Regions from separate parts of the Homo sapiens genome. Here region 2 is linked to region 1. Evidence: fine-mapped expression QTL. A gene starts in region 1. The other region holds a variant in brackets. All regions are shown on one strand. Distances are from middle to middle. Region 1 holds the start of ADGRG2 (adhesion G protein-coupled receptor G2). Region 2 has its middle 73 kb from the start of ADGRG2.

Evidence for each region. PIP is the estimated chance that this variant, and not a neighbour inherited with it, causes the effect.
Region 2: its variant is the best candidate, but not a certain one, in a credible set for the expression of ADGRG2 in pancreatic islets (PISA, PIP 0.83).

Annotation. Positions count from the first base shown.
Region 1 is chrX:19,113,102-19,129,540 of GRCh38, forward strand. ADGRG2 (adhesion G protein-coupled receptor G2) reads right to left here and starts at 9,367. Exons shown (of 29, transcript NM_001079858.3): 1 at 9,341-9,367.
Region 2 is chrX:19,187,172-19,203,610 of GRCh38, forward strand. No RefSeq gene overlaps it. Among named protein-coding and RNA genes, the nearest start is that of ADGRG2, 73 kb to the left of the region's middle. RefSeq lists an enhancer at 7,540-7,639. The variant C/T (reference allele first, on the strand shown) is at 8,128.

The DNA of each region.
Region 1 (16,439 bases):
GTGCGGTGGCTCACGCCTGTAATCTCAGCACTTTGAGAGGCTGAGGCGGGCAGATCACCTGAGGTCAGGAGTTTGAGACCAGCCTGGCCAACATGGCAAAACCCCATGTCTACTAAAAATACAAAAATTAGCTGGGAGTGGTGGTACGTGCCTGTAGTCCCAGCTACTCGGGAAGCTGAGGCAGGAGAATCACTTGAACCTGGGAGGCAGAGGTTGCAGTGAGCCGAGATTGTGCCACCGCACTCCAGCCTATCTCAATCAATCAATCAATCAATGCAACAACCCTAAACTGGATCCTGTACTAGAAGGAAAAAAATGCTGTAAAGGATGTTATCAGGTCTATTGTCAAAATTGGAATACAAACGGCAGATTAGATAACAGTATCTTATCAAAACATTTACTGAGATTGATAACAGCGCTGTGATTATTTGAGAGAATATTCTTATACTTAGGAAATCCCTACTGAAGGATTTAGGAGTTAAAGTTCTTGCTGCATGAAATTTATCTTCAAATGGTTCAGGAAAATCCTAGGTACACGAGCAAGAGTGTAAATGATAAAGCAAACAGGATAAAATGCTAACAACAGAGGAATCTGGATTAAGGGCATGGGGTGTTCTTTGTACTTTTTAAAAAAAATGTTCAGCTCATTTGTAAAGTTTAAAATTATTTCCAAATAAAACGTTAAGGCCGGGTGCGGTGGCTCACGCCTGTAATCCCAGCACTTTGGGAGACTGAGGCAGGCGGATCACCGGAGGCCAGGAATTCGAGACCAACCTGGCCAGCATGGCGCAACCCCATCTCTACTGAAAATACAAAGAAAAATAGCCAGGCGTGGTGATGGGCACCTGTGGTCCCAGCTACTCAGGAGGCTGAGGCAGGAGAATCACCTGAACCCGGGAGGCAGAGGTTGCAGTGAGCCGAGATTGCACCACTGCACTCCAGCCTGGGCGACGGGGCAAGAATCTGTCTCAAAAAAAAAAAAAAAAAAGTAAAAAAAAAAAAAGTCCCTGAGAAGACAAAGAGGATGAGGGACCCAGAGCCCAGAAAAGCAGCCAGTTTTTGATCCATTAGGGGCATTTCAGTCACAGCTTCACAGTGGCACTGGGGAACACTTTATTTGCACAAATATGGGCCTGTTGGGGGTCCAGGTAGTGGGTTATGAGGAGGCTCCTGTTGAATGAGCCAGAATCAGCAACTGATCTAGGAGGGGCAGAGGAAATAAAAGGTGTCAAACAACTGTTTTGGAGAATGGAAAAACAAACCCACTAGGCAAGCATGGTAGGACTGCAGGCCATGTTGAAGGTCCATTTGAGGTTTATTAAGGTCAGGAACAAGACCTGGACATCGGTATTGATTTATCAAGCTCCCCCAGTGATTCCAGTGGGCAGCGGGCTTTCAGAACCACTGTGCCACGGCAGGGTTTCTCAACCTTGGCACTATTAATGCTTGGGCCGGATCACTGTTTGTTGGGGTGAGGGTGCTGTGCTGTGCACTGTAGGATGTTTACCAGCATCCTCGACCTCTCCCCACTAGGCGCCAGTAGCACCTCCAAACCCTGCCAGTCATGACAACTAAAAATGTCTCTTGACATTGTCAAATGTCCCCTGGGAGGCAAAAATCACCTCCAGTTGAGAACCACTATGCTAAGCCATAAACGTGACAGGCTTACAAAGGTCAGGAATTGTGCGCACTCCTTGCTCTAGCTAGGAGCTTGTGATGAAGAACACAGGCTCTGAAATCAGATGGTCTGTATTCAAACCCCGGACCTACTGCTTACCTTCTGTATGACCTTAGACAAGTAACTTAACTTCTCTGTACCTCAGTTTCCTCATCTGTAAAATGATGAGAATTGTACCTGCTTCAAGAGGTTGGGAGGATTAAATGAGTTAATAGATGTAAAGCAATAAGGGTAGTAACTGCTCAGTAAATATTAGCTATCATTATTATTACGAGAGTGTCAGAAATATAGTGGATACCAGGTGAGTGTGTATTGGTTAATGAACTGCTTACATTAAAATACTCCACGCTTAACCTAAAGAAATTTCCACACTAACATTGGAACAGAAAGGCAGGGCACATTATACTTCTCTTAGGACAAGTGTCAGATTTTATCTATATTCTAGGCTCATTCATTCGGTCATTTGACACGTGGATAAAGCACCTACTACGTCCCACTGTTCTAAGTCCTGACAACACAATGATGAGCAAACTACACAAAGTCCCTGCCTTCCTGGAACTTATATTCCAGGAAGGAAAAGAAGACGCAGCATCAGTAAACAAATAACTAAATAACATAATTGCAGGTAACAGTGATATAAAGAAAACAAAAGTGGGATAAGGGAATGGACCCTTCCTGTGGTAAGTGGGGAGTACGGTTTTAGAATGAGGGTTAGAGAAGACTCAGATGAAACAAAGAAACTATCTGGTGAAATGGTGTTCTGGGCAGGTAGCACAGCAAACGCTTGGCTTGGGTGAGGAACATAAGCACGGAGGAGGCTGTGTTTGGAGAAGTTGAGAATAGGGAGTAAAGGAGGTACCAGTGAGGCCCTAGGGATTGATTGTAAGTGTGGTAGGAGGCGGCGCGGTGGCTCCCGCCTATAATCCCAGCACTTTGGGAGGCCGAGGCAGGAGGATCACTTGAGGCTAGGAGTTCAACAGACTGGCCAACACGGTGAAACCCTATCCCTACTAAAAATACAAAAATTAGCTGGGTGTGGTTGCATGAGCCCAGGAGTTTGCGGCTGCAGTGAGCTATGATCACACCACTGCACTCCAGCCTGGGCTACAGACTGAGACCCCATCTCGTCTAAGAAAAAAAAAAGTGCAGGCCGGGTGCAGTGGCTCATGCTTGTAGTCTCAGCACTTTGGGAGACTGAGGCAGGAAGCCTGCTTGAATCCAGGAGTTCGAGACCAGCCTGGGCAACACAGGGAGACCCCGTCACTACAAAAACTTTTTAAAAATTAGCCAGGCATGGTGGGGCAAGCCTGTAGTGCCTCCAGCTGCTCAGGAGGTTGAGGTGGGAGGATCGCTTAAGCACCGAAGGTTGAGGCTGCAGTGAGCCATGATCATGACACTGCACTCCAGTCTGGGCAAAAGAACGAGATCCTGTCTCAAGAGAAAAAAAAAGTCCGGGCGCAGTGGCTCATGCCTGTAATCCCAGCACTATAGGAGGCCGAGGTGGGTGGATCAACTGAGGTCAAGAGCTCGAGAAAAGCCTGATCAATATGGTAAAACCCCGACTCTACTAAAAATATAAAAATTAGCCAGGCATGGAGGTGTGAAACTGTAGTCCCAGCTACTAGGGAGGCTGAGGCAGGAGAATTTCTTGAACCCATGAGACAGAGGTTACAGTGAGCCAAGATCGCGCCACTGCAGTCCAGCCTCAGCAACAGAGATTCCGTCTCAAAAAAAAAAAAAAAAAAAAAAAAAGTGTGGGAAGAGGTCATTAGAGGAGTTTGAGTCATGGACTTATAAGACTGCATGTATTGGCTATTCTGTGGGGTCAAAAGTAGACACTGAAAGACTGGTTTAGAGGCTACACAGTAATTCAAGAGAGAAATAGGTAGTTACACTGATCTCAGAGCATAATAAATGAACTTACTTTGCATCATAGCAGGATCTGATATAAAATGAATCGGTTCTGGACATAATCCAGCAGTTTGGGGACTTAGAAACTAAATGAGCAGTTTTACAAAACAATGTTTTTCAAACTGTGGGTCAAAAAATCAAATGAAAGGGTAGTCAAATCAATTTGGAAAATCATGATCATCAGTTTAAAATGAAATAGAACAGATGAAAGATAATTGAAAATATCAATACATTGCACACAGGAGAAAGACAAAGACTTTGTGAGAGTTTGTTTCCATTATATACAAGTATGTTTGGACTGAGCTGAAATATAAAATGTGGCCAGGCGTGATGGCTCACGCCCGTAATCCCAACACTTTGGGAGACCGAGGCGGGTGGATCATGAGGTCAGGAGTTCAAGACCAACCTGGCCAAGATGGTGAAACCTCGTCTCTACTAAAAATACAAAAAAAAAATTAGTCGGGTGTGGTGGCGGGCACCTGCAATCTCAGCTACTCGGGAGGCTGAGGCAGAGAACTGCTTGAACCTGGGAGGCAGAGGCTGCAGTGAGCTGAGATTGCGCCACTGCACTCCAGCCTGGGCAACAGAGTGAGACTCTGTCTCAAAAAAAAAAATTAAAAAATTAAAAAAAAGAAAGAAAAAAAGAAATATAAAATGTACTTATTGTGAATGGTGGGCAAAAAAAGTTTGAACACTAGAAAAAGCTACCTTGTTTATACATGAGTAGGTTATAAACTGTCTCTTGATTCTCTTTCTTCCTCAGTACACCCAGCATTCCCCCAAATAAGAACATTATTAAAAAAACCTCCAAAGGTAGGTTCTTCATCATCTAAATAAAATGAATTACCAGGCGCAGTGGCTCATGCCTGTAATCTCAGCACTTTGGGAGGCCGAGCCGGGTAGATCACTTGAGGTCAGGAGTTCGAGACCAGCCTGGCCAATATGGCAAAACCCCGTCTCTACTAAAAATACAAAAATTAGCCAGGTGTGGTGGTGCGCCGCCATAGTCCCAGCTACTCAGGAGGCTGAGGCAGGAGAATCACCTGAACCCAGGAGGCGGAGGTTGCAGTGAGCCGAGATTACTACCACTGCTCTCCAGCCTAGTTGACAGAGCAGGACTCTATCTAAATAAAATAAAATAAAATGAATTGACTTAATGCTACACTAACTTCTCCTCCAGTGAGATCAAAATATGAACTTCCAAAGTCAAGAAGCAAACTAACTGATCCTAAACCTCTTAGGCTTTCAATGGGAAAAAAAAAAAAAGAATTCCAAGCAGAACAAGAAATTTTAAAATTAAACTTTTAGACTTTTAGCAAGCTAACAATGGAAAAGAAACATCCTGAGGATAATTAAGGTAGCCACCAGAACCCTATGGCAAGCACAATAGTTAATGGTAAAATAGTAGCAACTACTACTCAACATTATCCTACAGGGAAGCCTAGCCACTAAAGCAAGAAAATAAAATGAGGTAAAAATATTGGAGGGAAAATTCCCTATATTATTGCCATTTGCAGACAATTTGACTGTCTACTTTGAAAATCCAAGAAAATCAACTGAAAAACTATTAGAACTAAGAAAAGTTCAGTAAAATGGCTTGAATGTAAGATAAATGTACAGAAAAACAATTAAATAGCCTTCCTACTCACTACCATAGAAAATGAAGTGGGAAAAAAGGATACAATTTCTTTTTGTTTTTGTTTTTCTTTTTTGAGACAGAGTTTCACTCTTATTGCCTAGGCTGGAGTGCAGTGGCCCAATCATAGCTCACTGCAGCCTCAAAATCCCCGGCTGAAGAGATCCGTCTGCCTCAGCCTCCTGAGTAGCAAGGACTACAGGTGCATGCTACCATGCCCAGATAATTTTTTAATTTTTTTTGTAGGGACGGGAATGTTGCTATGTTGCCCAGGCTGTTCTTGAACCCCTGGCCTCAAGCGATCCTCCCACCTTAGCCTCCTGAGTAGCTGGGAATCCAGGCACGAGCCACTGTGCCCGGTTATCAGTTTTTGATAAAGCTCACATACAACATAGCCATCTTCTACGTGTTTACCTGAGTGAAATAAAAGTTTACATTCATCCAAAAAGCCATATGTGAATATTTATATTGGCTTTATTCATAATCATCAATAGTTGGTGAGTGGATAAACAAACTTTGGGATACTGCTCAGCAACAGTAAGGAATGAAGTATTGATCCGTGCAACATAGATAAACCTCAAATGCATTATGCTAGGTGAAAGAAGCCAGGCTCAGAAGCCTACAGAATACATAAGTTCTTTTACAGGACATTCTGAAAAGAACAAAATTATAGGGACAGCAAACAAATCAGTGGTTGCCAGGGGCTGAGAGTTGGGGGAGGCTGACTACAAAGAGTCAACAGGGAATTCCTTGGAGTGGTAGAATTCTTCTACATCCTGATACGGTGGTGGTTACATGACTATATACATTTGTCAAAACTTCTAGAACTGTACACTGAAAAGAGTGAATTTTACTGTAATAAGTTACACTTCAATTTGAAAAACATGGAGTAGACTGAAGAATCCATTAAATCGATTTGTAAAATGGGACAGTGTTTACCACAATTTATTTGATTGCGGGAATTTATTTTATGATAGCTTTCCCCAAATGTTAGCCCGTTTAAGTTCCATCACCCACCACCTCACACCACAATCCCAAAATAAATTCCATGCGGATTAAATACCTACACATTTTTGAAACCATAAACATTTTAAAAGAACTTTTTTCTTCCTATCTTGTGGTCAGGAAAACCTTTCTCAGTGAAGCATAAAAACTAGCTCCCAGGTTTTAACTAAAGTCAGAATCCCTCCTTTCTATCTTTTGAATCATGGACATCACAGAAACACCTCCCTCTCCCTCCTTTTGTTAATTTAATAGCACTCTTCCCAGTTTGGATCGTGTATTTGAAAGCGACTTGGCACGCTCAGGCAGAAAAGTGGAAAAATGTGTTTTTCAGTTTCATCTGAGCCGTCAAAGCACCAAGAACATATGTCGTGATGTCCTGCTCTGAGTCCCCACAATGATCACATCAGCCATGGAAAATCAGCTTCTTTGCTGGCTCTTCCTTGCACCTGAGCAAACTCACTTTGCCATTTCTGGAAGGCTGTTCATGGTACCAAAAACACAGCAGCTTTCCTTTCCCTGCCAAACCCGCCAATGAAATGCCACTTATCTGACTTTTTCTCCCTCTGCTGAACAAAATCATATCCATAGTTAGAGTACAATCTTTTTCTTTTCTGTATTTCCAACATTTCTTTTTTCTAGAAAAATACACACACCTGGAATCTGTGTTTTTTGGGCAAGATTTCTTCACAGACAAAATACTGATGCTGGCCCTGCCTTTCTTCAGTGTTTTTCAGTAGCTAAATATGCTCTATCCCCCTTTTAATGAAAGTCACCTTGCAGAGATGTGGGAGTGATAAAAGCAGAAGGGAATCCGATCCGGGCTGGCATCACGCTGAGGCCCTGTAAAAGAATACTCCTGAAAAGCTACAAAATTTGGCCACTTTTTGTTTTCCAGCTTTGCATTTGAGCTGTGAAAGCTGCCAAACCAAGCAATGTCCAGCTCATCTTAGATCTTAACTAAGCAAAATTTTATGAGATGCTAAATAGAGACTCCCCAATCCTTTGAAAATAACACACAACTTGTCAATAAACTTACAAAATTATTTCAATATCAAACTTAATTGTATTGTCTATCAATAATTAAGCTCCTAATAAACTGTTAACTGTTGATATTAATAAAGTAATAAATTTTGTCACACCATGCATGCCTGGGTATGCTCTTAGACTTATCTCTTCAGATAGCCAAAGAGGAGTTGAGAAAGATTGGAGATAACTGCAACATCTAGCTAGTCTTCCCTTAATAAACCTCTACTCTCCATCACCCACCATCTCAAACCCTGATCAAAAAATGGGTTCTCTTTCCACGTATGGTGACTATTAGGATCAGCTACATAATTTGTGGGACCCAGTGCAAAATGAAAAGGAGAGGCCCCTTGTTCAAAAATTAAGAATTTCAGCATTAAACCAAGTGCAGGATGCATGTCCATGAAGCCAGCCCTGCTATCAGATCATGTATTTGGCTAGAAAGTTGGTAAGAAAAGTAAAATATTTCGCTATTAAATGAGTAGTGAAGGAAATCAAATCATTTTACCCCAAAATATATTTCTTTGACATATTTTGAAATAGTTGACATATTTCTAAATATTGACGTATTTAGAAAGCCAGCCAGTAGAGCTAATGCAAAGCTGTCCTTGGTGCGGAAGATTTGCATTTGTAGAGAATCTGCACGGATGTAGCCAGGCTTTATCGAGGTCCTCCCTTGTCCAGATCTAAGAGAAATTAACTGAGGATCTGACCCCTTTAAAGGTCTGAAAGAAACATTTACTGTTTATTCTCTCTGAGGGCTGCCACCTGTGAGGTTTCATTGACATCTCCAGACCATTTTTGCTGGCCAAGCCTCCTCTTCTCCCCCTCTCACAACCTCTTTTACCACCATAACCTGTTTGGGGCCATGCGTTGAGACCCCTTTCTTTCTGTAACCTCAAGATAATCTACATGCTTCTGTACCCCATTGGGGGGCTGGGGGTAATCACTCTATTGTTCTCTCCCCGTGGACACATTAATACATTTGCATGCCTTTTCTCCAATCAATCTGTCTTTGTCAGTTAATTTTTCAAGCGAACCTTCAGGGGGCGAAGGGAAAGTTTCCCTTGGCCTTTATAGTAGCAAGTGTTTTTGCGTGCGTTTGGGGGTAGAGGTGGCAAAGAGGTATTAAAGCTATACATACTGTAAAGTCTTAGGACCTCGTCTCCCAATCTCCCACTTTTCCTAAGGTTTTCAGCCTGCTGGACAAAAAGTACTTCCGTAGGGCCTGCCGGATAAAGTGTGGTCCATGGAACAGCATCAGCAGCCACTGGGAGCTTCTTAGAAATGCAGACGCTCGGCCCCCACCCCAGACCTGCGGGATCAGAATCTCATTTTAACGGGATCCCTGGGGGATTATCGTGCACAGTACAGACTGTCACTGTCGAAGCAGCCACGGAAAACCTGTCCCCTGCTTCGTCTGGCTCTCGGGAGGTCAGCTCTCTTCTTCCCCCTCACTTTTTATCGGGTTTCGGAGCCTCGAAACTCGAGTCCCTGCCGAAATGCGCTCACTCCGAGACCACGAGCCCCCTCCTTCCCCGGCGTGCTCACCCCCTGGCTCCGGGCCGCCGCTCCGTCCCTCGGTGCCCGGGGCCACCTGTTCGGGGCCGCGCCGAGTGGTGCCGCCCCAAGCCGTCCGGGGCCCGGGCGCGTTCGCGCTCCGCCAGCACCGCCGCAGCCCGACCAGGCGCGCGGAGCCGGGCTCCCGGGAGTTGGCGTCTAGCACACCACCCGCGCGAGTCAGGCTCGTGGCTCAGTTTCCCGCGGGTTGGGGAAAGTACGGCTCCGTCCGAAGGTTTTGGAGACGCGCGTCTCCCCTTGGAGCCTCCTTTCCCACGGCGCGCGGGCTCCCCCAGTCGGGGAACTAGCCCCGGGGCTGGGAGCTACGCCTCCGCCTTTCAGGATGTTCCCGGGCCCCGGCTAGGAACAGCAGCCGGGCGGAAGGCGCGTTCGTCCCGCCGGCCCGCTGGCCCGCCGCCCTCCGGGGCTAGACGCTGCGCCCGAGCCTCCAGCGCCCGTGGCCGGCTGTGCGAGTCTGGGTCTCAGGACCCCAAGGGGCCAGACCCGTCCTGGCGCCGAGCGCTTACCTGCCGCTCGCGTCCTCGGGGCTGGCTGCTGGCGCCGTCCGGCCCGCCTTTTCCCCTCTCCGGGGCTGCGGCCCTCCTCCCCCCGCCCGCGGCCTCGGCGCCGCCCCCGCCGCTCCCGGCCCGCTCCGCCGCCAGCTCTCCAGCTGCCCAGCGCGGCGTGGCGCGTCGGGCGCTCGGCGGCGGCGAGGCTGGGCGCGGAGGTGGGGAGCGGGCGGGGCGCGGAGGGAGGAGGGGGAGCGGGCAGCGCGGCCGGCCGAAGCCGGGCTGGGAGCTCGGGGCAGGGGCAGGGGCCGGGGAGAAGCGGGGGCGGCGAGCTCGGCCGCCCACCCCACCGCAGCCGGGGGCCCCGCAGCGCTCCTGGGCTCCAGGCACTGCGGGACCCTCAGATGCCCGGCGTCCAGCCCAGCGAGCTCCTCCTTGGGGACCCCAACGGACCCCAACCTCCAGACTCAGCGGCTCACCTTTAGGGCTCGCCCCGGTACCCATATGCCCGTTTCAGTGTCGCACGCTGTAATGGGTGGGAGCCCCGAGGGCGCACTTCTACCAAGATATTCCTGAATCCGGAGATCAGATGTCAGACCACTTGAGAGGGGAATTTGGAGAGAGCAGTAAACGAGAAATGTCCCAGTAAAGGATTCAGTTCGATGGTTTTCCTGGTGAAGGACTGGAAATACACCGGGTTCCCAGAAACCGGGATCTCGGGCGCTCTGCCTGCTGGGGGTCGAGGTGGAGGGGGTATATAAAGTGAGTTGTCCCTGGTCCCCTCTACCTTTCTGTCTCAGCATCTCTCCTCCTGCATGGTCATAGAATAAAAACTAGATCTGGATAGGACTTACAGATCCCCTAAGCAATTTGTCAAAGTACCCTATTTTACAGATGGGAAAATGGAGGCTCAGTTCTACAATACGAATTAGTTGTAGAGACCAGGGAAAAAATAAGCGCTCTGAATTCCCTTTCCGGCTCATTTTACTGCCCCCCTCCCCCGCCGCCTTTATAGTCGAATAACACCTGTGTTTGCAAAATGCTTTGTCGTTTTAAAGGCATCGTTCTCTTTCGTTAAACCTGCGGGAGAATATACCATTTTTCCTTTACAACTAGAACAAAATTCTGGATTCTGAATTGCATTCACAGCCCTGGAGACGCGATGGTTATCAAGTGCAGATCTTTAAGGCATATCCTGGCTGACTCTGCCATTTTAGACACATGATGGGCGAGATGTATATTCTGCTTTGCAGGAGGGGTTGAATTTGTTTTGCAAACACCAGTTTATTAACACTCACAACATTCTAACTGAATAAATGAATGGACAGTCTTTTCAGAGAGACTTTTAACTGATTGGATTAAGGGAGAGTAGAGTCAGGAAGCTCATCCAGGTTACATAAATTAAAAGTTTTGATGAAGGGGAAAATGGTGTATTAAATAAACACACCCGGTATTACTCCAACGGGTTAAATTGGTTCCGTTTGAATGAACTTAACACGTATTTTTAACTTACATATAACTTTTGCATATTAACTTCTTTATTTTTGCTTTACATAGACCTCATACCTAAAGAATTTTCATACACCGCTAGTGGGAGTGTAAATTTTTACAAGCATTTTGGAAAACTCTTTGGCAGAATCTATTAAAGCTGAGAGTACAACTACCCTCTGACCAGCAATTCCCCTTCTGGATGTACACACAACCTCAATCAGTGTGTATGTTTACCAAAGGATATGAACTAGAATATCATACCAGTATATTTGCAATAGCCCAGATTGGAAATGACCCAGATGCCCACCAACAGAATGGATCGCAGACATTGTGATGGTATAGTCACAAAGCGGAATCCCAGACAGCAATGAGACTGCATGAACCACTGCTATGCTTAATATAGATGAACCTCTGAAACAATGTTGAGTGAAGAAGTCAGGCCCAAAAACACAGACACTATATGATTTTGTTTCTGTAAAGGATAAAACAGGCAAAACTAACCTATGCTGTTAGGATAGCGGTCACTGGAGAATAAGAAGGGCTTACAGGTAATGTCTGGCTTCTTGATCTGGGTACAGTTTAAACGGATCTATGAGCACTTTTCTGTATGTATGTCTCACGTCAATAACAAGTTAATATATGTCTATCTCATATTAACAGTTGCTTGAATTTCTAAAGTTAAGCGTGATACCAGAGTAAGTATGCTTTTCCTTTAAACAAACTTGCTGTTTAAAAAAGGACTTTAAGGCTCTTTGGGAGGCTGGGGTGAGGGGATTGCTTGAGCCCAGGAGTTCAAGACCAGCCTGAGCAACATAGTGAGACTCCATTTCTGTAAAAATAAAAAATAAAAAAAAATCAGCCAGGCATGGCGGTGCATGCCTGTAGCCCCAGCTATTGATTATTGTGAATAAAGGCAATATAAATATTCACATACAGCTTTTTGTGTGAATATAAACCTCTATTTCACTTAGGTAAATACCTAGAAGTAAGAGTGCTATGTCATATGGTAAGTTTAGCTTTATCAAAAACTGGTAGCCAGACACAGTGGCTTGCCCCTGTAATCCCAGCTACTGAGGAGGCTGAGGTGGGAGGATGGCTTGAGCCCAGAAGTTGGAGGCTACCATGAGCTATGATCATGACCCTGTACTCCAGCCTGGGTGACAGAGTGAGATCCTGTCTCTAAAAAAAAAAAAGAAAAGAAAGAAAAAGAAAAGAAATATGTCTAAAAAACATAAATAAGACAGTTCTTAAAAATTCATATTTTGCTGCACTTTCAGCCAAAGTTTCATTCTTCTTGACACACACTCTCAGATTCACATAACTCTGACATCAGGGCCTATGGAAGAGGAAAGAGGTTGGGATTAAGGAGGGAACCCCGGCCCTCCAGCCACAGGTTTTTCTGCCTTTTCTGAGAGAGGGAGCCCTAGTCACATGCCTTCTACACGGGTACTATCTGGAGATATGAAGGAAGGCTATGGCTGCTCAGGATTTGCAGGTGAATATTTATCCAAAGCCTGTGGGCTGATGTCCCAGCAACTGAAGAGTGGGTGGCTTTGGCTGTAGTCCCACAGGGTCTTTGAACCAGTGATGGAGCTTGATCAGCAGGCATCAGTCAGGCAGCAAATATGGCAGAGACCGAATAGAGAAGGCAAAAGTTCTTGTCACCTTGCCCCCTTCCCACTGGTAGGTCCCTTAATGAAGGTTCTTGGCAAAGGGAGGTGGCAGAGGAGGACAGCTCACCAGTGCTCAGGGCACGGCTCTCCTTAGAACTTCAAATGTAATTGACCTGTGGCCAAATCGTCTACAAATAGAGCACATGATGGTCTAAAACAGATTCATTCTTTCCCAAGGGAAACAGAGCATGAAGAGAACATGGGGCTCAGGTGCAAATCAAGACGGTGAGCTGGGCTGGGCGTGGTGGCTCATGCCTGTAATCCCAGCACTTTGGGAGGCTGAGGCAAGAGGATTGCTTGAGCCCAGGAGTTCGAGACCAGCCTGGCCAACATGGTGAAACCTCATCTATACCCAGAAAAGTACAAAAATTAGCTGGGCATGGTGGCGTTGCCTGTAGTCTCAGCTACTCAGAAGGCTGAAGTGGGAGGATCGCTTGAACCCAGGAGGTCAAGGCTGCAGTGAGCCGGGATTGCACCACTGTACTCCAGCCTGGGTGACAGAGTGAGACACTGACTCAAAAAAAAAAAAAAAAAAAAAAAGACTGTGGGATGAGGGTTTAGGATAACAGTAACAATCGACTAATACTGCTAGATCTTTACATACTTTATACTTGATTTCACAAAATCCTCGTGGCAACCCACAGAGGACTGTACAGCTGAGGAAACCAAGGCACAGATAGGTTAAGTGCTTTTCCTAAGGTCCACAGCTAGTAAGTGGCAGAGCCAGGACTGGAATAAGTCAGAGCACAACTCTCAAGCCCCTGCTCTCTTAACACCTGGGTGTGAAAGGTGGAATGGTGTCATAGCAAAAGCACCAGGTAGACAATCAGGAAACGAGGGGCTTGGTGTTTACCAGTGTTGCCACTAACTAATGGGTATCATCACTTAGACAGTCTGGGTCTCAGTTTCCCCACTTGTAAAAGACATAGGAGGTGGCAAGGTCAATTGAAACTTCAGTGATAATGCCAAGGTTTGGTTTGGGGGGCTTTAGGCCCCCCATAATCCCCATCAGCACTCTCATAGCCCAAATAAAAGACATGTAATAAAAATAGTGTACTATGCAAACAAAACAAGAAAAGTCCCCTCACCAACATGGTCCTCACTTCCCACACACGTGTAATCAGATTACCATGTCTGAATCTCTTCTTTATAGAAAGGAATTCTAGAGCAACACTGCTCAGCAGTCTCTTCTGGCTTAAGTCATTCATTCATTCATTCAACAAACATGTATTTTATGCATATGGTATCAGTGAGGATAGCCTAGGTTATTCTGCAGTAACAAACAACCCTCAAAATCTCAGTGGTTAGTATAAACAAAGGTGTTTTGTTTGTTTGTTTTTGTTTTGTTTTGTTTGAGATGGAGTCTCACTCTGTCACCCAGGCTGGAGTGCAGTGACGTACTCTGTAACTTCTGGCTCTGGGTTCAACAATTCTCCTGCCTCAGCCTCCCGAGTAGCTGGGATTACAGGTGTGTACCACCACACCTGGCTAATTTTTGTATTTTTAGTAGAGACCGGGTTTCACCCTGTTGGCCAGTCTGGTCTCAAACTCCTGACCTCAAGTGATCTGCCTACCTCGACCTCCCAAAGTGCAGGGATTACAGGCATGAGCCACCGCGCTTGGCCAAAAACATTAATTTTTTTACTCACACTACATGTGCATCATAGGTTAGAAGGGGGTGTTTACTTATTGCAGTCAATCAGGGATCCAGGATGACTGAGTAGCCACCTTCTCAAACATTGCTGGTTGCCGAGCTAGAGGGAAAAGAGAGCTCTGGACCACAAGTATTTAAATGCTGTAGCCTAGAAGTGGTGTACAACGCTTCTGCACCCAACTCATCAGCTGGAACTGTGCAAATAGTTGCACCCAGACACAGAGGGCCAGGAAATGCAGCCCTAGAAGGGCCTGCGAAGTGAAGAGTTGGAAATACTTGGTGAACAGCACCGATGACTACCACACCTACTACATGCCAGACCCGGGGCAGATGAAGATGGGCAAGATGCAGTCCCAGCCCTATAGTCCCCCCTCACAATCAAACCAGAGAAGTCTCTGGTGATGCAATTCTACCTCCATGGTATAGGCTTTGGTGGATCTAGGTGAGAAACCAATCACTGCCAACTTGAGTGAAGTCACTGTGTGATACAGCATTTTTTTTCTGGAACATTGTGTTAGTTGCAATGGTGGTGAACCTATTGCACAACGGATGAGATAAATAAATCACACACTGTCTCGTGGGAGGCAAAAAGGCCCTCTCTTGGGAAAACACTGAATGAAGACAGTTGGACATGTTGTCATTCTCTTCAATGAAAGTTACAAATGGCAGTTTAATGAAAAATGAAACCAGACCTTGGCCTCAACCAAGATGAGGAAGGTGGGACCAGCCCTTTTTGAGAATGTGTTCCAAGTTAGGAAGAGCTGGTGGCCCTGTGCCAACACAAATAACCCGAAAATCCGGAGGAAACTAAAGGCAGCACAGTCAATCTGCACGCTGGGATTAGTTTGTGAAACTCACCACCACCCTGCCTGGCAGTGAGTGAGCCCAGGGCTTGGGGGTTGGAGTAGGGAGTTGAGGGAGGAGGGCAAGCACATGTGGCTCTTTAGTAGTGAGAAGAGACAACTCTCAGGGCCAGGTCACATCTAGCTCAGTCCAAATTTGAACAGCAATGGCCCTTTTTGTTTCTTGGAGGAGTCCATGAACTCCTGGCCGTGCGATTTTAAACCAAATCTCTTGCTTTTCCTGTCTCTGAAACCACAGGGCACATTTCAGGAGAAAATTCTGGACAGACACATCCCTATAGCACCCTAGTTTGCCTTCTCTATCCGTTTTCCCCTAGAGGAAGATACTTCGAGACTATGCAAATATCCTGTTTCTCCTCCAACCTTCTCCCACTAATTTTAGCATCCATCGGTAGATCATGCATGCAACAATTATTCCTGTGGTGTTCTAAAGGCGATTTTCTATTTCCCTCATTCCTTCTATGTGAATTCATTGGAATCCTTCTATAGGGAAGAATTCTCTCCCATTTATTTATTCAATTATTTATTTATGTCAATATGAATTCATGGACAAGGAGTTTAGTCTTTGGGTTAGAATCCAATGTTGTTATTATTGACTTTATTGTCAGTGTCCCAGCTTCAGTCATTGCAAGCTCTTTCAGGCTGGCTCCTGTGTCTCCATTCTTTCTTGAGCACTTTCTTACTTTCTGGCACCATAATATGCTCCAGGCTCATTTGTATATTACCCTATTGTTTTTTTCATTTCACCTAAGAATATGCCTCATTTTAAGTCCCCTTCCTTTTTTTTTCTTCTTTTAGCCTTCTTTCTTTTTCTCTTTCCTCTTTCTTTCTCCTTTCTTTCTTTCTCTTTCTTTCTTTTCTTTCTTTCTTCTTTCTTTCTTTCTTTCCTTCTCTCTCTTTCTTTCTTTTTTTTTTTTTTGATGGAGTCTCATTCTTTTGCCCAGGTTGGAGTGCAATGGCGTGATCTTGGCTCACTGCAACCTCTGCCTTCTGGGTTCAAGTGATTCTCCTGTCTCAGCCTCTCGAGTAGCTGGGACGACAGGCGCATGCCACTACGCCTGGCTAATTTTTGTATTTTTAGTAGAGATGGGGTTTCACCATGCTGCCCAGGCTGGTCTCAAACTCCTGACCTCAAGTGATCCGCCTTCCTCGGCCACCCAAAGCGTCGGAATTACAGGCATGAGCCACCGTGCCCAGCCCCCATTTGTATGTTTTTAACCAATTCTCCAATCAAGGACCCACTGCATAAAGTAATGCTCCATTTTATTTGTACTAAGTTGCTTTTCTCAAGTTGTAACAGTTATGCTACCTGGATCTAGAGTTTTGGAATTTGGGGGAAAAATGCCTGTTAACTTAATTACATCCGTCATCATATTAAAATATTTTTGTTATGCCCATTGGCTTCATACTTCCTTAGTTTCATCTGTCGTTACAAC
Region 2 (16,439 bases), 74 kb after region 1:
GCAAATTTGTTGCCCTAGTCTAGTTTAAAGCCACTATTTTTCCATTTTTCATTCATTCAGCAAATATTGATTGAGAGTATGTGTGCCAGGAATTGTGCTCTATTTATTCTAGTTACAATTGTATACACAAGCCTGGAGTCCTTCAGGCAGTCGTCTTTGCTAAAATGAACAAATAAGGGTAAAAACTTTCCACTCTTCAATTAGGCAAAATATCTATGTAGGCCAATTTTAAGGCGTAGGATTCGTTTTAGAAGCAGTCATTGAGACACTAGTGGAGAAATCCAAAATTTAAATATTCATAGATGTGTACCAAAACCAGAAATGGTTCTCAGTACCTTTACAGTAAAAGCAGAGAGCCTGTCGCCTGCCTGAATGTTCCAATGTCGTTCCATTGATACTTACGGTATTATTATAATATTAATGGTAACCTGATTGGTTACAATCAGACCCTCCCTTCAGGAATCCTGTAATAATATCCCAAGTTGCAGGATGCTGAGGGTAAAAAATCATTGTGCAACTACACAGATGGAGCCATTTTATGTCCAGCTACAGCACACAATCTTTGACACTACAATCTTGTCATGGGTAGTGACTATCTGGGGCCGGTGGCCTAGGTGATAAAGGAATTTACCAAGACAGTAGTAGGTAAAGAAAGGCAGATTTCTTAAAGAAGGTAAGAAAATATGTTGCAAGGCTGTAATGGGCAGCACAGCAGAGAAGGGGCTATCTGCAAAGAGGCAGGGGCTGGAGGGAAGTTTTATAGGGTCTTGCTGGAGGGGGCTACATGTGGAACAAGGTTGTACCCACAGGTTGTTTGTGATTAGCCATGTCTCAGGAAAATTATTCATTGTTCTTTCTCACCTGAGGCCCTCCTCCACCTGGGGCCCCTTCCTCATTGTTGCTTACTTATCAAGACTCCACAAATCTGTTTATGAATCAAGAAATGTTATAGCTTAAATCCCAGGGCTCTCCTGCCCCCAACAACTCTCTGAAAAATGCTGGAGAATATGTTGAGGCAAACAGGTTAGAAAAGCTCAAAATAGAAACAAATGCTTGATGAGCGTATCACAACTGTTGACACTTCAGCCCTGTGATAAGGTAGCTGTACCTGCCCATCATCAGAGGATGGCAGATGTAATTGTTTCTACCCATCCTCCCAACCCATGAGGGCTTGAGTGAAATGTAAGTGATGAGAAATCCTTTGAAAACTTGAATGTCCCACACCAAAAAATCCCACGTATACAGGGAAGATCAGTATCAGGGAAGGGAAGTCAGGGAAGATCTTGCTGTTTTTATAGGGAAATCTTTTCCCTTGAAATCACTTTGGAGAAAACATATTTTTTTTTTTTTTTGCCATTCGAAAAAAAATCTTTACTTATAAAATAGAATGAAAAAACTGAGCCCAAACACACAAAAGCCTTAAATTCATGCTTCTTATAATTTCCTACTGTAGTTCTGCTAGTTCTTAAATTTCATGATGCTCAAATTCTCCTTTTTGCATATCTTTTGTAGGTTTTCTCCCTCTCTGAGCAACGGTTGCCAGAGTCTTTTAGAATGACTTGTATTTGCTAATTGGATTAAAGGCCCGATAACGGCATAGATTTTTTTTTTTTTTGCAACATCCTGGTTAACATTCCTAATCTGGGCAACAGATGTTTCCACACCTTTTTGCATCTTGTGTTCAGTGATTAAGGTAAGGAACTCTTAGAATCTTCTAAATGATTCAAATTCATTTTCCACACAGTTGAAAGTGGCAAGTCATTAAGATAAAGGCTTTGAACCTCAAATGTTATAAACAGGAGGTGAAAGAAGGTGGAAAAGGGAGGGGAGTCTGTCCTCTTGTTCTTATTGTTTTCCCTATTTCTCTCAATTCTCAGAACCATCCTTCCATTTAATTTATTTATTGAAGCAGTTAATGCCTTTTATTATTCCATGCATATGGATAAAAAATATTAAAATGCACTTACTAAGTGGAAAAGGAAAGATATTTCCAACTTAGATGGTTACACCACTTTCATTACTGCGAGTTCATGCACCTAAAATACCTTAAAAAGGCAGGAAAAATTTTTTCCTGTCAGAAAAAGAATGTACTAAATTAAATACATGAATAAAACCCTCCCCGATTCCTCACAATAATTGTGTCTCAACTTGCTTTTCTTTCATTCAATGTTTATATATGTTTTGTAGGCCATTGGTGTTTGAGAAAATGGGAGGAAAATTGTTTGTTTGTTTATTTATTTATTTATTTATTTAGAGATGGAGTCTTGTTCTGTCACCCAGGCTAGAGTGCAGTGGCACGATCTCGGCTCACTGCAACCTCCACCTCCTGGGTTCAAGCAATTCTCCTGCCTCAGCTTCCCAAGTAGTTGGGACTATAACCTCCTGGGTTCAAGCGATTCTCCTGCCTCAGCCTCCCGAGTAACTGGGATTACAGGCATGTGCCACCACGCCTAGCTAATTTTTTGTATTTTTAGTAGAGACAGGGTTTCACTATGTTGGCCAGGCTGGTCTTGAACTCCTGACCTCAAGTGATCCACCGGCCTCAGCTTCCCAAAGTGCTGGGATTACAGGTGTGAGCCACCGTGCCCAGCCAAAATGATTATTTTAATATCAAAGTTGAGGTCTGAATGAAAAAATATGGTTTCTAATGTTCAAGTAGTGTTTTTTTTTAAAAAAGCACAAAAGTCTTGTTACAGCAGCACCCTAGTTGGACATGTTAACAAAATTAATTTTTTTAAAAAAGTTAAATACTACTAATAATGGGAAAAATCCTTTGGCTGTGTTTATTGGTGAGACTGATTAATCTGGCATTATAAAAACCTCACCTTTTCCACAACCAATATACTTGGAATCAAAGATGTGTGGGGCCTCTGTCTACATAGATTTGATACAAAAGCCTTGGTGTGCATAAAGAAATGGAGATTCTTGGGTCCTGCACACAGAGATTCCAATTTGATACATCTGAAGTTTGCCTGGGAATCTGCATTTTTAACCAACAGCCCTAGATGATTCTGACGTTGGTAGTTCAGAAACCATTCCTGGAGAAGCCTGATGCTGTAGCTCGACTTAAGATCTGCAACAATGCAACCCAGCCTGACATCCTTCAACAAAGATCCTCAGGGAGTTGACTTGAAAATGGTTTGATATCTTGAAATACATTCAGAATTATCCTCAATTATGACAGTTGTATTTTGCTAAACACCTTTGATCTTGTCACCAAACTCCTCTCGCAATTAGCGAATATGCAAGGACATGTCTGGTAATGCTTTACTAAGCACATTATGCGTTTGGCCAGAACTCTCTGGTTAGATAGTAGAGATGGGGTCACCTAACTCACCCAGTTTTGAAATTCAAATAAAGTGTTAGGATTCAAATAAAGGGTTCTTAGCCTACCACCATTATATATCAGAGTACTAATTGTCATTTAGAATAAATACTCATAAATGACATCTACATATATATTTTTTGAGACAGAGTCTCACTCTGTTGCCAGGCTGGAGTGCAGTGGAGTGATCTTGGCTCACTGCAACCTCCGCCTCCCAAGTTGAAGCAATTCTCCTGCCTCAGCTTCCCGAGTAGCTGGGACTACAGGCGCGCACCACCAGGCCCAACTAATTTTTGTATTTTTAGTAGAGACAGGGTTTCGCCATGTTGGCCAGGATGGTCTCGATCTCTTGACCTCGTGATCTGCCCGCCTCGGCCTCCCAAAGTGCTGGGATTACAGGCATGAGCCACTGCACCTGGCCGATATCTACATATTAAAAACACGTCAAAAGGCTAAAAGGAAGGGGTTGAAGACCCAGTTATTTTGACAATCAGTATATAGTATAGTCTGTTTTGCCAGACTTCACCAGGTATTGTTTCTGTTTCTCTTTCAAAATCAGTTTCGATGTATTCATGCAAGCGAGATTGGAGGCTTCTGGTGAATTCTAGAGTTCTGGATGGCCCCTGAGTCATTTGTCCCTCATCACAAACACTTGGAGGTGGCTACAAGAGAGAATGGCTTTTCTTCCTCTGTGTGAGTGGTAGAGCACCTCTACAAATGAGGCCAAACAAGCTCTCACAAATGAGGCAGATGGAGGAGCTCCTGTGGGAGCCGGCTATTTCCTTCCTCCATACTTACCCCTCTTTTCTGCTCTGTTGCCACCCTGGAGAAAGGAAGGGCAATGTGGCAGGAGACATTATATACTCACAGTTCTTCCACTTATTCCCTTCACTGTGCCAGGGCTTCACTGGGAGAGCATGCTTCCTTCTCTGTCCCATTGACTTTAAGCTTGGCCATAAGACTTGCTCTGAAAGTGGGAGGAAATGATAATGAATAAGTTCTGGGTTAAATTGCATTTGTTTGTTTGTTTGGAGGCAAGGTCTTACTCTGTTACCCAGGCTGGAATGCAGTGGCACGATCATAGCTCACTGCAGCTTCAAACTCCTGGGCTCAAGCCATCCTCCTGTCTTAGCCTTCGGAGTAGCTGGGACTACAGGCATGCACCACCATGTCTGGCTTATATATTTTTTTTAATTGTTTTTGTAGAGATGGAGTCTCACTATGTTGCCCAGGCTGGTCTTGAATTCCTGACCTCAAGTGGTCCTTCCACCTCAGCCTCCCAAAGTGCTAGGATTACAGGCCTGAGCCACCACACCTGGCCCTGGGCTGGATTGTTAAAAGGCATTAGGCATTTCTGCCAGGGCCTTCTTGCAGCCCTGTCATCTACCATGAGTAGAGCATGCCCCAGAGATCTGCTGGCTCCAGAATGAGACACATATACTCAGTCTGACTTGCAGGCAGCATTAAACACAGCAGCTACAGCCAATCCACAGACACATGAGTGAGAAAAATAAACATCATTTTGGTAAGCCACTAAGATTTAGGGGATTGTGTGTTATGCAGCAGCAACATAGCATTAGCTGACTGATACAGAAGGGTAATTGCTATTTACCAATGGCTCATTCCTTGCCAAGCACCATTTACATTAGCTCCTGTAATCTACAAAATTTCCTTCTGAAGTGTACTGATCCTTCCACCTTTCATAAAACATAAGCTCAGCTAAGGCAAGGCCCCAGTGATAACCACTCAGTGGCTGAACCAGCAATTCCAATTCACATGTGCTCATGTACAAACATGGTGATTATTTCACGGCCCTCTCCTACCTTCCTGAAGTTTACACCACACATAGTAGCAGCAACAACATAAAAAACAATTTTGCTCTTCTATGAAGGGCTTTACAGTTCAATGCACTTTCATGTATCTTCTTTCATCAATAAGAAAATGTCCAATTACTAATTGGGGCAACACCTTGTCCTGTTTAGTTCTGTTCCAGATTGAATCACGGTCCATGCGATTTGAAATGGTAAGTCTTTGGCTCAGAAAGTATCATGCTTTAAAAACCACAGGAAGGCTTAAAATAGACTGGAATATTCGGAGGTGCCAGGTATGAAAGAAAATCCACCAGATAAAAACCAGTTGAGCCAGTGTTTGGAGCTTTAGTTGACCAAAGCAGGCAGATGCCATAGAAACTACTCAGGATCTCACTCTGCTGCCCCACTGGAAGAGATAACCACTCAGAAGACACCAGCAGCATTGTCACTATTGCCTCTCAGAAGAAGCAGCATTTTTTTTTTTTTTGAGATGGAGTCTCACTCTGTTGCCCAGGCTGGAGTACAGTGGCATGATCGGCTCACTGCAACCTGTCCACCTCCTGGGTTCAAGCAATTCCCCTGCCTCAGCCTCCTGAGTAGCTGGGATTACAGGTGGGCACCACCACGCCCGGCGAATTTTTGTATTTTTAGCAGAGACGGGGGTTTCACCATGTTGGTCAGGCTGGTCTCAAACTCCCGACCTCATGATCTGCCCACCTCGGCCTCCCAAAGTGCTGGGATTACAGGTGTGAGCCACCAGGCCCAGCCAGGAGCAGCATTTTTCAACTCTGACTGCACACTCAAATCACCTGGAGAACTTAAGAAAAAGAAATCGCTGGGCCCTGCTTCCAAGCAAACTGAATCAGAATTTCTGGATTTGAGGCTGGGCCCCTGCAGTTGCGAAAGCTCCCCGGGTGATTCTACTATGCAGTCAGGGTTGAGTCCCACTAACCTGAAAGAGACAAGCAATGTATTTGCTGACGTTTACCATTAAAAACCAATTCCGCTCAATGACCTACACCTGGTGATGGGGTGCATCTCAGCTTTGCGTGCCTTTGAACTTCCTACCCAATGACTCTCCTATCATCATTTCTTCTCTACCACTTCCCTTTCTTGCATTGACTGTTGATGAAATCCACATTTATTTACTGAAATCCATATGTATGTCAATTCCTGAAACAGTGTTTGCCAAAGGATAAACTATACAAGTCTATAGGATTTGTAAGGAATTCACTTCACTGAGGTCCTATATATAGTAAGTTAACTTAATATATGTCACTGGCCTCACTAGCAAATAAATAAATAAATAAATAAAATCAAAGACTGTCATTTATATTGCTTCTATACAGGGTTCACACTTCGCCATAAATATTGCAGGGCGCTGACATTCTGGTTTAATTTGCACATTCAAGTTCTCAAGAATTCGCTTTGATTTACATAGTCAGAGACTGCATGCTGTCACGCCTCTTGTATAGAGACCCCTTGTGGCGTTCACCTGATTGCCTCCTCGGTTTGTGTGGGAAACGTTCCATTTCTTTTACAGTAGGATGTACAGCTCCTTTACTGCACTGGTGGTTGTTAATTTCAATACATTTGGATAAAAATAACATCTAACATTTATGGAGTACTTTCTATGTGCCAAGTACGGTTTTTTGTTTTTGTTTGAGATGGGGTCACTCTGTTGCCCAGGCTGCAGTGCAGTGGCACGATCATGGCTCAGTGCAGCCTTGACCTCCAGGGCTCAAGCAATCCTCCCACTTCAGCCTCCTGAGTAGATGGGACTACAGGTGCCCACAACCACGCCTGGCTAATTTTTTAATATTTTGTAGAGACACGGTTTCGCCATGTTGCCCAGGCTGGTCTTGAATTCCTGGGCTCAAGTGATCTGCTTGCCCTCTGCCTCTCAAAGTGCTAGGATTACAGGTGTGAGCCACTGTACCCTGCTAGGCACCATTCTTAATGATCTGTATGCATTTGTTCATTTAATTCTTAACCCTATGAAGAAGATGATGATGATTGCCATTTTATAGGTGAAAAAACTGCGGCACAGAGAAGTTAAGTAAGGTCCTCAGGGTCATACACTTATTAAATAATAAAGCTAGAAATGGAACCCAGATCATCTAGTTCTAGAGTCTGGGCTTTTGGCCACTAGCATATACCACATCCCCCAGCAGGTGGGGCACCTGTTTAGGTACATTTTAGGAGAAAGTGTGGAGCCACTGGTACTCTCATCACTGCTGGTGGAAGTGTAAATTGATACAACTACAAACAAATTGTTTGGCAGTAGCTCCTAGAGCTGAACATGTAATTCCTGACCGTATACCCACCAAAAACGTACACTCATGTTGGTGAAAAGACATGAACTTGAATGTTTATAGCAGCACCACTCATAACAAGACTGCACTGGAAACTACCTGAATGTCCATCAACAGGAAGATGAGTAAATAAATTCTGGTGTATTTATACCACTATGCAGCAATGAGAATGAACAGTCTCCCAACTACCTGAGACAAGATGGGTAAAACTCATGAACGTAATGCAGACGGAAAGAAAACAGGAAAAAAGTACATGCTGGATGATTCTATTTATATGTAGTCCAAAGACAGGCAAGAAAGAACCTCTGCCTTTAGGGACCAAGCTATTGGCTACCCTTGGGGGTCAGAGTTGTGACTGGAAGGAGCAATTGGGATGGGGGCTTCTGGGGTGTGGGTAAAGCCCTGTTTCATCATCTGGCTACTAGCAGCAGGCGTGTGTTTCGGTTTTGAAAATTCAGCAAGCTGTAGATTGAGGTTAGATACACTGTTCTGAGTGTATGGTGTATAACACTAAGAAGTTTGAAAGGGTACTATGCTATCTGCGATCAGATGTTATCTTGGTTAGAAGAGTTAGGTAAATATCTTCAAATAAACGTCTATATTTAAGGAAAATTGTCACTGCAGGCAGTTTGCGACATCTCTAGTGTTTTCCCTACTTTTCCACTTCTTATCAAAA[C/T]GACCACCTGAGTTAATAATTGTAAGAGAAGATGATGGGCTCGCTCAGGCGTTCGGGACAGTATAGTGTGCTCGTGCTCGCCCCCAGACAGGGGCTCAGAGTGACTCATGAGAGTTGTGTGAAGGTGCCGTTGCTAGGAGCCATCAGAACAAAGCGTCCTGGCTTGCTGGCCTCCGTGTCTTCTGGAGCACCCACTTACAGGGGTGTGGAGAGCAAGCAAAAGCAGGGCATAGGTTTCTTTTGTAGAAATCTTCAAGAATGAGGAAATTGAGATCTGGGGTGAGAAGCAACTCTACGTGACATTCTGCTGAAGGGCAGCCCCTCTTAGGAAAGATTCAATGCAAGCGGGTGGGAGCTGCTTCAACTAAGAATTCTCACTACTCCTGCACCTGTGGAATCAACCAATAACCCACCCTCCTACAGCCCAATCCACAATGCTCCATTTACCCCACTTCTGCCTTTGAGAGAGAGAAAGAGGGAAAAATTTCATCAATAACTCACAAAGGCTAAGCTTTGCCAGGGAAATTGCTAACTTTTATTTGCTTGAGAAACACACCTACCAAAAAGACTTTTATTAACCCGGATGCCTTCAGCCAAGTTCTTTCAAGTTAATCACATAGGTAGGGAAGAGCTTTCAAATTCAGATCAGAAATTATAATCAAACAGCCACAAAATTTACCTCTGTATTAGATAAAACAATGGCTCCCCACCTCGCCCCAGCCCATGAACCAGACAATATTACCAGATACACAGAAACCAGGAAGTCAAACCTCTATCTTCCATCTCTTCCTCTGTATGTGACACAGAATTACAGTAATTAAATGAGATAACTTTGGCAAAGAGTTTTCTTAGAGTTCTGCTGATTATTCTCAGGGGGAAAATCATATTAAAAGGAACTAGTTGAATTTAATTACTGGATTCATTCATCATTCATTTTCTGAATTTGCTCCCAGGTATGATTTCCAGTTGAATTTTCAATCTCAAGCTATTTCCAGAATGGGATTTATTCTCACCTTGTTCGCTCCATCACCTCTCCTGTTTGTCTCCCCTCTCTCACCACTACACACCTGAAGTTCCCACAAGGGCTTAGTGGGACTGAAACTAAGAAGCCCAACATGACTTCAGTGGCAGGAATATTTTCAAAGATTTCCCTGTAGATGGGTCTGGATACTCAACTATTGCAAAAAGGCCTTGGCTTCCTTCTGGGCTACTGCCCCGGGGACATTGGTCTCCACCTCAGCCCAGCGGCTCGGTGCCCTTGAGCTGGACATGGGAACAATCACCAACTTTCAGAGCCTTTTCAATTCCTTATGACGGCAGAATTGAGGCTCCCAACTTCCACCACTACTGCAGATTGGATTCACTGAGGAGCTTAAAAGGAGGCATGAAAAGTCCTCATGAAGGACGGTGTCCCAGCTGAGTTCCGAACCAGGAGGCAGTCTGTCATCAGAACCACCCAGCTGGGCGTTCCTGCAGCCCTGGTCTTGCCTGAGTTGATTTCAGGTGCTTTTCACTTGAAGGTGAAAAGAGGAGGAAAAATACCTGGAGAGAAGGGAGAGGGGAGATTAATTCTAGGCCTGGTGTCTACCCCATGTCTGATCTGATGAAGGTTCTGAGACTCTAGAAAGATAGAAGTCAGGACCTAAGGCTGAGGAACTCCACTCATCAAAGACTCTCTGACATGCTGGGCCCGAGAGGGGTCATGCCCCCCATCCCTACTCTGCCACAGACCACCACATAGCACTGGCACTCTGGGCCTTGGGGTGGCCACTAATAGAGAATAGCAAGAAACAGGTACCTACCCAGCAACTGTCAGGAGCTAGGGACCCTGACAGCAAAACAGCTCAGAAGAATGTGAGCAAGCCCTTTCTTGAATACCTATAAGACACTTGCCCTGCGAAGTCCCAGGGACATTAGAGGAGGGTTGTTGTTGTTTTTTTTTTTTGTTTGTTTGTTTTTGTTTTTTCTTTTTTGTGGGGGTGAGGTGCGATGGGCTAGGGGGTCCTCATAATTTGGGCATAAATGTTAATGTGCTATCATTACCCCAAACTGCTAACATTTGGGAATATTTTAATTATTCTAAAAAAGGATGTGCTCCCCAATCTCTTTAAAAATTAAACAGATTGTGTTTTATGAAGCTACTTTCAGAATATATTAAAGGTGCGCTATATAAAGAATAATTAGATTGTCAAAATACTTTGAGAAATACCGGATATATATATAATGTCAAGCAGGTTTCTTTTTTTTTTTTCTTTCAGGACAGAGTCTTGCTTTGTTGTCCAGGCTGGAGTGCAGTGGCATGATCTCGGCTCACGGCAAACTGCCTCCTGGGTTCAAGCAATTCTCCTGCCTCAGCCTCCCAAGTAGCTGGGACTATAGGCGTGTGCCACCACACCTGGCTAATTTTTGTATTTTTGGTAGAGACGAGGTTTCACCATGTTGGCCAGGCTGGTCTCGAACTCCTGACCTCAAGTGATTCATCTGCCTCGGCCTCCCAAAGTGCTGGGATTACAGGTGTGAGCCACCACGCCCAGCCCAAGCAGGTTTCTTTACTGAAAAACTTCTCAGATCCTTGAATGTGCCAATGGGACGAGTCCCTGTATTAATCAGGATGGGCTAGGTTATGCTGCAATCACAAATGACCCCACAATCTCAGTGGCTTACATAGACAAAGGTTTATTCCTCACTGGTTTTGCTGTACATCATCTTCACTTTGGGACCCAGACTGGAGGAAGAGACTCTAGTGTTTGTTTTCATTTCTTGTTTTTACACATAATATAATGAACAGATCTTATGAATTTTGACAACTGTATACACCAGTGTAACCACCACACCAATCAAGATATAAAGTATTTCCATCATCACACAAAGTTCCTGAGTCCCCCTTTCCAGTCAGTTCCTCTCCTGGCCTGGGGCCACCACTGATCTGATTTCTATCACTATAGATCAGTTTTACCTGTTCTAGAACTTCGTGGAAATGAAATGATGTAGTATATATTCTAGTGTTTGGCTTTTTAGACTCGAGGTTTTTTTTGAGAATGATTTATGCTATTGTATGTACCAGTTGTCTATTCCTTTTTCTTGCTGAAGGGTAGTCCACAGTACAAATATATCGCAGTTTCTTTATCCATTCACTTGTTGATGGACATTTGGGTTGTTTTCAGTTTGGGCTACTATGAATAAAACTGCTACAAACACTCCTCCACCAGTCTTGTAGACATAAGTTTTCATTTCTTTTGGGTAGATACCTAAGAGTGGAATGGCTGGTCACGTGGTTGGTGTATGTTTATTTTTATAAGACAAAGAAATTGACCAACTGTTCTCCAAAGTGGTTGTACCATTTTACAACCCCACCAGCAGCATATAAAAGTTTCCATTGCTTCACATCCTTGCTAACTAGTCAGTCTTTTTACATGTTAGCCATTCTAGTGGGTGTGAAGTGGTATCTCACTGTGGTTTGAATTTGCATTTTCCTGCTGACTGATGTTCAGCATATTTTCATGCACATTCCTTTTCCTTCTTTTGTGAAGCCTCTGAAACAGCCTCTGTCTAGGAAGTTATTGGTCTCCCGGCAAAGGAAAATAAGAGACATGGTGAACCTGGAGCAGATCCTGAAGCTTCTGCTCCAAAATGATACACATTATTTCTGTCTACATGTATTGACTAAAGCAAGGTACACGGCCACTCCTGAGTTCCACAGGGCAAGGAAGTCCAACCCTCCCATGAGGAGGGTCACTGGAATGTTTGGCAAAAAGGAATATAATCTACTCCAGTCCCCAAGAAGGATATCCTAGTGGAATTTATTTTCTCAACAGGACTGTATGGTGCCTTTTATTCTCCTACTTCCTAGGTGTACCCAATGTATAATAAATGCCAATCAAGCTTGTCCAATCTGCTCACACATGTATGAGCAGCCTTGCACCGCCCTCTTCTTTGGGTTTGCTATGTGCCATTGTACTCACTTCAAGAAAAGATAAGGGGCAACTTGACTGATGCTGGGCAGGCAGGCATCCAGGAATGAGAAAAATGAGATCCCAGGTGTTCCTTCTTCTAGTTCTATAAAACTGTAAAAAGCATCCCCCATCACCATGAGAAAGACAAGACCACAGTTAGGACCTTGTTTACCTCTTGGAAAGGTCTGTTTGTGCAATGTGGTGGGTCAAGCTAGCCTGAGGAAGTTGGCTTTTATATCTGCTGGTCTTATCAGTTGTCTTTATCTCCTTTTTCTCTCTCTAAGGAGCTTGACGTGAATTTTTTAAAAAGTCTACTAATCTGTTATTTATTGCAGCTTTATTTGTAATTGCAAAATATTGGAAACAGTATTAACACCCAAGCATAGGAGAGTGGCACGTACACAATGGAATACCATGCAGCTCTGATAAAAGATGCAAAAGATCTCTATGAACTGATACAGAGTGATTTCTGGGAGCTAGTATTGAAAAAAAGAACATGAAAAAGCATATATAGGTTGCCAGTTTTGTGTAAGAAAGAAAACATACATATTTCTGCTTATCTTTACAGAAAGAAACACAAGAGGGATAAACTAGGAAACTTTGCATTTGGTATCCTGCAAGCAGGAAGTGAGTGGAAGGGATACAGGAGGGATTGACACTTCTCTGAATGTAGCTTTTGGTGTAGTTTTAGCTTTTGAAAGCAAGCTAATATTCTACATATTTGAAAAGTTAAATTAAACCCATAAGAATGAGAAAGGAAAAAAACTAAAATGAAAGCAAATGGAAACGAACCACTGTGTATCAATGAACATCAAATGAACATCATAATTACACTGTATATCAAAGGAACATCATAATTATACAGGAGGGAAAGGAAGAAAGCAAAGAGAGCACTAATCCAAGTAATTTAAGAATACAATATTTGACTATAAACTCTCGGTGTCGGACAGGGTAGAGTGAGAGATGAGGGGAGAATCACAACAAATTCCAAAGTCATTTTGTAGAGCTGTCTGTTGTAGGATGAGTGAAATAATGCTGAAACTATTTTAGAGCCATTACAGGGCTGAACAAATGAGTAAACGTGTTGATGTCATTGAGAGCCAGCATTCTCATTATGGACGAAGGGACAGAAAAATATGAAATGGGGGAGGCAGGAAATAATCCTGTGGAGATAAGCTGAAATTGGAGGTATCAGTGCAAACTCATGATTTCTGAAATGTGCACATATATGTCTATATGCATGTTTACATACACACTATATATATGTGTCCATGTGTAGGCATGTATATGTATATATACGTGCATATATCTCTTAACTCTTTCCAGTGAAAGGGCCAAGAAGCACCGATAAAATGAATACAAATAGCATAGAGATCTTGGTATCTAATACCATTCGCCATTAAAGGAGCCAGAGCTCCTAGGAAAAATAGCTGAGTCCAGGGCTGGGATAGTGTAGGTACAAGATAATCCTGGAGTATTCTGTTATGTCGGAAAGTAAAGGAGTGCTCAAAAGCATGATGGTGGCCTGTCACGAAGATTCAGGAACCAGCTTGAAGGGGCTACTGCTGGTTAAATCTGGGACAATTTATGAGTTCATACTGGTCAGATAGACAGACAGACACGTATAGGTGCAGAAATAGGACAGAGGGGAAAAGCTTCTTCTACTTATAGTTGAATGTCAAGGGCCAGAAGGTCAAGGTGGACAGGGTGTTAGAATCAGAAAAATCATCCTTTTTTGTTTGTTTGTTTGAGGCAGGGTGTCTCACTCTGTCACCCAAAGTGGAGTGCAGTGGCATGATCACGACTCACTGCAGCCTCAACTTCCTGAGCTCAGGTGATTCCTCCTACCCTCTCAGCCTCACAAGTCACTGGGATTACAGGCGTGCACCACCACAAAGTGTTGGGATTACAGGCATGAGCCACCATGCCCGGCCAGAAAAATCATCATTTTGCAAACTTCATGGTAAAAATTGGCTTGAGCAAGAATCATCAATGAATTGTAAAGCTAGGACATTTTGATGAAAAGCAGGATATTTGCATGAATTCAAAGTGTCTCCTTACAGAGTGTATATTAGATGCAAGGGGGAGGGATCCAGTGACATTATAATGGAGAAATTGGACAACACTTTGGGTGATCTCAATTAATTTCCCCCATGAGGAGCAGATGGACATCACATACCTCCAGATGTGATACCTTAGGAAAGGCACGCTATCAGCGCAGTTTTCCAGCAAAGAATACACAACCTGAATCTAACCAGGAGGAAGCAAGACAAACTCCAAAGTTCTAGAAAGGAACATGTACCCAACCTGTCCAACCACAAAGCTCATTTTAATGAACGAGCCATTAAATATGGAATACAGTGTTCTGAGGACTTGATATAGGAAGTTATGTCCCAGAAAAGGGGACATAACATGATCAGAAATGGTTTTTACTGGGGGAGAGGGGCTTGCAGAAGAAAACGTCAGTTCCAGGACCAGCTCCTTTCCAGGGTGCAGCAAGGGTGGTTGTGCCTCCTCCTTCTAGGTTTTAGACCCTGAAGAAATGTCAGCCAACATCTTCACCTTCTTGCCTGTGCATCTAGGATGGACAGATGGACAGATGGATGGGCAGATGGATGAAGCGGTGGATGATAAGGAGCTGCCCGACTTCATGGCTCACCTCTGTAATGTCACAAAAAGCTCTGGACTGGGAGTCAGGCTTTCCAGGTGGCTGCATCTGGGTCACACACACAATGACAGAAAAACATCATATGTGCCCACAGCCTCCAGAGGCTTTATGACCACTTCCCATCTGAACCATGATATAAACGAAGGAAGACACCCTGTATACAAGGGGAGTGTTTTAGTGAAACAACTCCTGTGGTAATTTTGCAAAATAGTATCAAGCGTCTCATTACCACATTGATATTAATTAAACAAATATCAGGAAAATAAGTATAATTTTGCTAAACTCAAATGACTTACAAGGCAGGAAATGATATTTCTGTCCTAACAGTATATCAAATGCACTTTATGCAATGTGATGTTGGATTTCACAAATGATACAGATTCTCTTTTTGTCAAGTTCATTGGCTTTGAAAGCTGGGGCAATGGACTGCCAAGTGCAGACAGAAGAGTCAGCCAGTTGGTAAACAACGTTGGGCTTATTTATTTAATAATTTACTTATCACAGAATTCCATCAGTGCTTTGAAAATGCCTTTAATTGATGACAAGGAGGTGGTGTTAGAGAACTTGCAAGGGGCTCTGGCTGAGACCCAGTTGGTTGACAGGAAATTTAGTGGATATAGGCAGAAGTCAAAGCAGCAGCCTCTAGGGTTCTGGTGCCACCCCTGCCCCACAATGCTGGACTGAGAAACCAAGGGATGAACTGGAAGCTTCGGGTTGTCAAAACTTTCTGTGAACAAATGCAATCAAAACCCAAAGCTCCCCATTTGAAAGGCCTATGAAAATGGGTTAATTAGGGTCTAGAAAATCCTGTGTGAAGAGTACTCAAAACATCTAAGAGTTTGATAGTGGATGATTTCTTCTCTTAAATCTTGCCAGGTTAATAGGGGGTGAGTTTGGGGCTGAAAGTAAGAATTTGGAGTGTGCAGACTTTTAAAGTTCTCCTGGTTAGTGTCATCCCTGGAAAGCTTTCTTTGGGAACATTTTTGGAGACTACAGCATGGGCAGCTTCACAGCTGTCTAACCAGTGCGATGACACAGGGCCTTGTGCTCAGAAAAGCCCTGTCTACAGTTTAATGCTCAATTGTTATTGTACTGAAATTCTTGATAATTTTTTCTTCGCATTTGTGTTTTGTAAGTGAAGCCCGATGGGATGGGACAATGGAGCAAGAGCTGGGGGGAGCTTAGAGCCTGGCCCACCTTGGGGTCACCTTCTGCTGCTCCCCACCTCTCCCAATGGGTTTTTGGCCACCCCTTCTCCTCCACCCATTGGAGCCCCAGCCCTACCTGGCTGCCTCCTCTCTGCCCTGTGACTGACCTCTGCCACCATCTACCTGGGGCAGTGCCCAGGTAGCATTGTGGGGAGGGGGTAGAGTGCTGTGGGTAGGGTGGGGTAGGGAGCTGGGGGAAAGAGTTGGAGACCCATGTTGTACCAGGCATAGGTGCCAGAAATGTCCGGGTGCCACCTGGAGCCTCTGGTCAGGCATAGCCACAGTTGTCCCTGCTCTGGGCTGGCAGCACCATGGTGGGCTCTGTGGGCCACTTGGTAGGTGCGAGCCTCTAATCCACCCCAATCCAGATACTGAGGTTGCAATTTATTGAGGGTTGGTCACCTGCCATGGGTGGGGGCAGTGGGCCGTGGGAAGGGGGTATTGACTTCCCCTGGGGCCAGGGCACCGCATACACACTGATCT